Linked DNA regions of Homo sapiens. The protein of the gene in region 1 purifies or fractionates together with the protein of each later gene. This does not show direct contact. Each region holds a gene or a part of one and is shown on either strand. Other genes may lie near its edges.

What was found.
Region 2: the proteins of HECW1 (region 1) and CUEDC1 purify together in Homo sapiens (co-immunoprecipitation; one large-scale study listed by IntAct). This does not show direct contact.

The regions. Positions count from the first base shown.
Region 1 is NC_000007.14:43,448,147-43,451,646, reverse strand, and holds part of HECW1 (E3 ubiquitin-protein ligase HECW1), read right to left. Parts: intron 820-3,500; coding exon 718-819; intron 1-717. UniProt on the Homo sapiens protein: E3 ubiquitin-protein ligase that mediates ubiquitination and subsequent degradation of DVL1. Also targets the mutant SOD1 protein involved in familial amyotrophic lateral sclerosis (FALS).
Region 2 is NC_000017.11:57,885,913-57,889,412, forward strand, and holds part of CUEDC1 (CUE domain-containing protein 1), read right to left. Parts: intron 1-3,500.

The DNA of each region.
Region 1 (3,500 bases):
ATCTAGGTCAAATCTTTCATTGAGCAGATGGAGACATTTAAACTTTATTTTTTAAATTTTACAAATGAGAAAACTAAGTCCCTGAGAGATTAAATGAATTTCCCAAGTTCAGATGACTAGTTAGATAATTATTAATTACCCACTACAGTTACCAGGAGAAACTGACATTGAATTCTATCTTAAAGATGATATTTTGCCTGGCAACCCCTAAGAACTGCAGAAGAAATTTGAAGCTATTCCCTATGGATGGAAGTTATAGTAAGGAAAGTACAAGTTCATGTGCCCAGATGGGTTGAAGTTGTTTTAACATATGGAGATGCTTGTGACGTAACAGATCCAATGGAGAACAATAGGATTATTCTATCTTGAACTGCAAATTTTAAATATAAAATGTAAAATTTGGGACTTAAAGGTCATGAACAGTTTGCAAAGACTAGTCAAGTCTAACAGAGAAATGCTCTCCATTTCAGAAGTTGAGAGGCACTGAAAACACTGTGTTATCTCTTCAAGATCACATGGTGAAACTATTAGTCAAAAAAACAAACTAAAAACCCCCAAAAAACCACCAGTTTTTAGAGCAGGTGTCATATTGGTCTTTGTTAACACTGTAAGGCACGGAGTCGGGAAAGACTTTAGATGTTTACACACAAATTCATACTGACCTGCTTAGACTTGATAGGAAGAGTTAAGACACAGATTTTAAAAACTAAAGCTTACTTGGTGGAAGAGGCTCATCGATTGTTGGGTAGTGATGATGTTCAGGCCTCAGGGAAGGAAGCTGGCTTACTGGCTGGGAATTATGGAGTATAGGACATTCACCTACGGACAAGATAGTCAATACATTCAGATTCATTCACTGCCGTGGCAACATCATCAAAAAAGCATGACTGTAAAACTAAGCACTACAAGAAACAACCCCAAAGAGTGGGAAATCCATTTGTGTGTGTGTGTCAGTTTGCTACATTCACAGTCATTCGTGAGGGGGGAAATATTTTTTTAAAAAAGAAGAAAATCAAAACACTTCATAACTAATGATCTGCGCCACACAGTCCAATATGTAGGATTTGAGTCTGATTCTGTAATGACCCGAATTTCCTGAATCAGAAAGTGGCACCAGAAAGGAACACAAGAGAAAATTAGCAGAGCCTGATTTTAGCCCAGTGGAGGAAATAGGCCTGTTTGAGGGAAATGCAGCGTTTTATAAGGTTCCACAAAAGTTCCTTGGGCTTATGCAAAATGACACCTCCTCACTTGGATAGGTTTCATCACAGGGCTGCCGAAAGGCTGTTTTTCAGATTTTTGAGGGGAATGAACTCTTAGATGGTACCAAGACAGGTCAAGGAGCTGGCGAGCCAAGAAAGTAAATTCCTGTAGTAGGAAAGCTGGAGGTTGGGGGGTTGGGGAGGGGAGCCAAGGGGCTGAGGGATCTCAGGACTGTCCAGATTATTTTGAGGAGAAATCAGACAAGCCAGGGTGCTCCGGAAAGAGGAAAGGACAAGAGACAAAGGAAGTAGATAAAAAGCAGAAAGACGGCGACAGGAAAGCTCAAAACACAGAAATGGGAAAGAAGGAGGAAGAAAGACAAACATGGAGAAAGTTTAGAAATAAACATTATATCCACAGGATGCATGCCTCAGATTATTAAAAGAAAACCTACAACAGACATAGCTTATACTGTTCTCAGTTCGGACTTATAATGAACTGAACGATGTTCTGAAGTGGTGTCCTCAGGCATGTAGAGCAGCCATGCAGAAGGCAGGCCTGCAGCACCAGCTGCTTGGGTCACATAATCAGAGGCCAGTGCTCTTGATCTTTGCAGAGTGAGAAGGGCCCGGGACAAAGGATGGCCCTTTTTTCAGATGGTTCCTCCTGCCTCACACCATGCTGGTTTTCTTGCAAAAGCCTTTAAGGGCCAGAGGGCAAAGGTCAGGCCTTTTCCTTCTTCTGTCCTCTGCTGATGCAAATAGCAAGTGTTCCATTATCCCTTGGGTCAAAAAGGAGAGAGACTGAAAAATGGTGGTCAAATGGTTGTAGGATCTCAAATGCTGAATATTTCCTAGAATATCCACACATGGAAAGGATGGTTATTTCTTCTCACTCTAGTTCTACGGAACTGATCAAAAATAAAAATAAATTAATTAGGAAGAAAGGTGGGTTTAATTTTGTGATTTAATTCCTAGAGCTCACTGGCAAACAGAAGGAGAGATATATTCAGGAACAAAGGGTCCTTTTAAATGTTAAATATAGAACATTATTTGTTGAGCAAATTCTGCTATGTTACTCAAATCCTCTGGGTCCTTGGAGATGCTAATGGAAAACAAGGAAGGTTCCCCTCATGCCGGCACCCAGTTCATTGTGGACAGACTGCTGTTCCAAAGATGGGCTCTGTGTTTAAGTGGATACCACACTCATGTTTGTTTGTATACATGTTTAGTGTCAGAAATTAAACAAAACCATGGTATAGTTGTTATGTCATCAGCTGCTGCATTTTTAACTTAGTTTCTTTAAAATCAACAATAGACTTACCTCTTGAAATTAATGCAACCAATCAGGTTAATTACTCCTCCAAGCTAGTGGAAATACAACATTGTTGACTGCCTGGGGTTAATGCAGCTGATCCCACCTGCTTGTGAACCCCAAGCAAATGCAATGATGTGACCAACATGTCTCAGCCGACTGAATGGATGGAGGCACTGAAGAAGCAAGCAGTTCTATTCTGCACAAGGACAGGGTTCCACATCATCACCCTTGCCTCAAACACAAAGCAAGTGTTGAAACCCGCCAGAACCTCCCAGAAAGAGATCTATTCCTCAGCTAAAAGCAAGCAACGTCGTTTTAAATTCCCTTCTATTTATAAATAATATAACCTAATTGTAGAGAAAGATAGGTTGCCTTGCATATTATTTGAAGCAAAGTGATTTATACCTAATAATGTGAAAATTTCCCTTGAATTATAAAGTACAGGAAATGCAAATTCAAAGGATTGTTTTAGATGCTTTATACAACATAATATAAACAGTTACCCTCACTGCTTGTCTGCCTGGAAGAACCCTCACTTGGTGGGAAGCAGAGTGCTTTTGTAGTATCATCTCATTAAATTTTCCCAACAACACTTTGAGGGAGATTCTGTAATTATACCCATTTTGCACATGAGGAAACTGAGGCACAGAACAGCTAGGTAACTTGGTGAGGAAGTGGGAGGAGTGAATATAAATCCAGGAGGCCTGACTCCAGGGCCTGAGCTCATAACAATGACATTATGTTACTCTTTTCATTTATCTGCAGAAGGTCTTTCAAGAACTATTTTAAATTAAACTTTTAAAAAGGAGGTATTTATAGAGGGAAATAAAGCAAAAAGTATGAAAAGAATACTAGCCTGTATAGTTGTCAGTTCAGACTTAGAACAGTGTTCCTCTATAAATTGTTGCAGCCTTATCTATGTGGGCACGTGGACAACAAATCCACCTGGGTTAATCTAATGCAGTTTTTTTTTCTCTCTC
Region 2 (3,500 bases), on another chromosome or scaffold:
CTAACAAAACATGAGCTCAGGGTGGCGGCCAAGGGCTACTAAGAAATGAGGGCAGGGAACCGCGACCCCTACCACGGGCAAGGGAGGCTTGCTTCTTCCTCATGCTTTCTCCCCGGCTTCAGTAATGAAATCCCCACAGTTCTTTACTAGCACAGGACAGCCACCAGTTAGCAAGGGATTCCTCCGACCCAGGTGCCATCCTAAGTGCTCTATGTGGGCCAACTCATGACAATACTGTAAGGTATGTGCTAGTATGCCCATGTTGCAGATGGGAAAAGTGAGGTATAGACGCTGAGTTAGTGGAGGAGCCAGGATTTGAATCTGGGACATATGGCCCTCAAGTCACTGGTCTCTACCATTACACATACTGCCAAAGACCCCTGAAGACCTGAGTGAGGCAGGAGGGGCTCTTTAAAGATGTCCTGCCTCTCTGATCTCTAGTCCCTGTTCTCATCTTCCCACATCACTGCCCCAACATCGTGGTCCCACCACCAGGGCAGGAATCTTGTGCAGAGCTCCATCGAACCCCGGGGACAGCAGTGATGAGAAGCGGGACCCTCCAGTGTCACCGGGAGCTTCCAGCCTGAGAGAGGAAACAGGGTTTCATCCTTGCAGAGCCTCGGGCTAATAGGGGAGGCCCAGTTCCCACTCTTGGAAAACTCATGTCAGGCCCTAAAACTCAGTCCATTCCCCTGAGAAGCACCAGCCCAAAAGAGAGATGCAAGGCCATTGTCAACCCCTGGAGTTCATTTTCCTTACCCCAATGTCAGGCCGACATGTTTTATTTATATCACAGACACGTTTGTTCTTATGGAACACTCAGTGTCCTTACATATTTTTAAAAATTCTAGAAGTTTTTTCTCAAAGTTGTCTTGAGAAACCATATACATCATAAATTCTGGTTGTTTTTTTTTTTTTTTTTTTGAGACGGAGTCTCGCTCTGTCACCCAGGCTGGAGTGCAGCGGCACGATCTCGGTTCACTGCAAACTCCGCTTCCCGGGTTCACACCATTCTCCTGCCTCAGCCTCCCGAGTAGCTGGGACTACAGGCGCCCGCCACCACACCCGGCTAATTTTTTTTTGTATTTTTAGTAGAGACAGGGTTTCACCATGTTAGCCAGGATGGTCTCGATCTCCTGACCTCGTGATCTGCCCGCCTCGGCCTCCCAAAGTGCTGGGATTACAGGCGTGAGCCACCGTGCCCGGCCATAAATTCTGTTCTTATCCCCACCAAGCCCAGTTCTCCTGCCCCAGCCAATGTGTGTCCCTCAGCCCCCAGGGTCAGCACAGTGTCCTGACAACATGTATAGGTGGAACTGAAAATCAAGCACAATGAGGGACCTTAATCTGCCACAGAAAACCACCCGGCCCACTCAAACCCAGGCATGTAAATCACTGCCAAGGTTGCATTTCTGTTAGCACAGACCACTGGGAATGGAATGCGCCTAAACACCAACTTCTGACAGTGGCAGCTTTATTTTAAGGGACAATTCCATCAAATAATATCCTTGAGTTTGATGAAACAGGTGCAAACTTGTTTTCACTTTTCTAGGACTTGGAGTCACAATCTTAACAGCTGATACAGAAATTTTTTTTTTTTTTTCGGTCTCACTTTGTCGCCCAGGCTGGAGTACAGTGCTGTGATCTTGGTTCACTGCAACCTCTGCCTCCCAGGTTCAAGCAGTTCTCCTGCCTCAGCCTCTCGAGTAGCTGGGACTACAGGTACACGCCACCACGCCTGGCTTTTTTTTTTTTTTTTTTTTTGTATTTTTAATACAGATGGGGTTTTGCCATGTTGGTCAGGCTGTTCTCAAACTCCTGACGTCAGGTGATCTGCCCACCTTGGTCTCCCAAAGTGCTGGGATTACAGGCATGAGCTTCAATGCTTGGCCAAGATGTTTTTGTGAGTACATCAACCCCTGAGAAAATCTGTTCACACTTTAGTGTGTCTACATCTCGATTTTTTCTTTTCTTTTTCTTTTTCTCTTTTTTTTTTTTTTTTTTTTTTGAGACAGAGTCTGGCTGTAGCCCAGGCCGGAGTGCAGTGGCGTGATCTTGGCTCACCGCAACCTCCACCTTCCAGGTTCAAGCAAGTCTCCCATCTCAGCCTCCTGAGTAGCTGGGACTACAGGCACGTGCCACCACGCTTGGTGCTAATTTTTGTATTTTTAATGGAAATGGGGTTTTACCATGTTGGCCAGGCTGGTCTCAACCTCCTGGCCTCAAGTGATCCACCTGCCTCAGCCTCCCAAAGTGCTGGGATTACAGGCGTGAGCCACTGCGCCCGGCATTATTTTTTCTTTGCATATACCACCATAAATGAATTTATTTTACTAAAATGTAATCAAACCATAAATCCTATGCAACTAGTTTTTTCCACATAATAAGATATTGTGGCCATCTTCCCATGTCAGAATACGTAGGGCTACGCCATCATTTTTAGTGCCTGAGTAGCATTCTGTTGACTGAGTGAAGCATGATTTATAATCCAACTCCCTCTACCCCATCTCTTCCCAGATGAGCAAGTCAGAGCCCAGAGACGCCCAAGCCATTTCACAAGAAGACACAGAGGGGTGACTTCAAATGATCAGTCCAAGAGTTTTGCTGTGAGAAGGAACATAGGAAGGTAGCCAAGTATGACATGGCTTCCCATAGCCGGCTTTAGACACCCCAACACCCCTACACCCACATCTCCACGAACCCACACACATCAGAAGAGTATGCAGCTTCGCCTGGGCTCCACCCTGACAGCTGCCTTTGTCCTGGGCTCTGGGGACCTGCCCTCAAGCCTCTAACACAGACCTCAGGGCCAGGAGGCCCCAGAAGCTGATGCCTTGGGCTACTGTCTGCTGTCCTAGTGTCATCACACACAGGGGTCAGTGACTTGTGTTAAGGCCTTCTGGAGTAAAGCCATCATCTCTCTGCCCCTCCAGTAATTTACTAACAGAGATGGAGGGACCCAGGTCTCACTCTGCCAAAGGCAATCCCTCGGAGAAAGATGACCTGGGCCACCCCCAGGGGAGGAAGAAAGAAGATGGCAAGACCGACATTTTCCCCATTAGCAGCCCTCTGGACAGCTCCCTCGGGTTCTGGGCCTCTCTGAGTGTTGAGAAGCTCCAGAAGCCTTGCACTCTTGCCACTTATAGGGAACACGCACCAGTTCAGACAAGGCCTCCGCACTCCCCAGCTGTGGGACCTCAGACAAGTCTCCCATCCTCTCCGTGGCCCTAAGCCCTCATCTGGATGTATCCCTTAGGGGGTTTCAATGGGAATGAAATAAGATAATCCTCAGCACACTGCCTAGAACGTGGCTATGCTGCATTTGAGTTATCATTGCCCCAGGAGGCTGGTAAAGAGCCAGGAGCAGTGGGTAAATTGGCCAAGCTGCCCTCACAGGGGGGATGGGGTAGGGAGATTCTAGGGGGGTCTTCCCCAGCACCTGGATGTCAATCCCTGGAATTCTTTCAGCCCTCTGTAAGGAAATATTGATCCTCATGGCC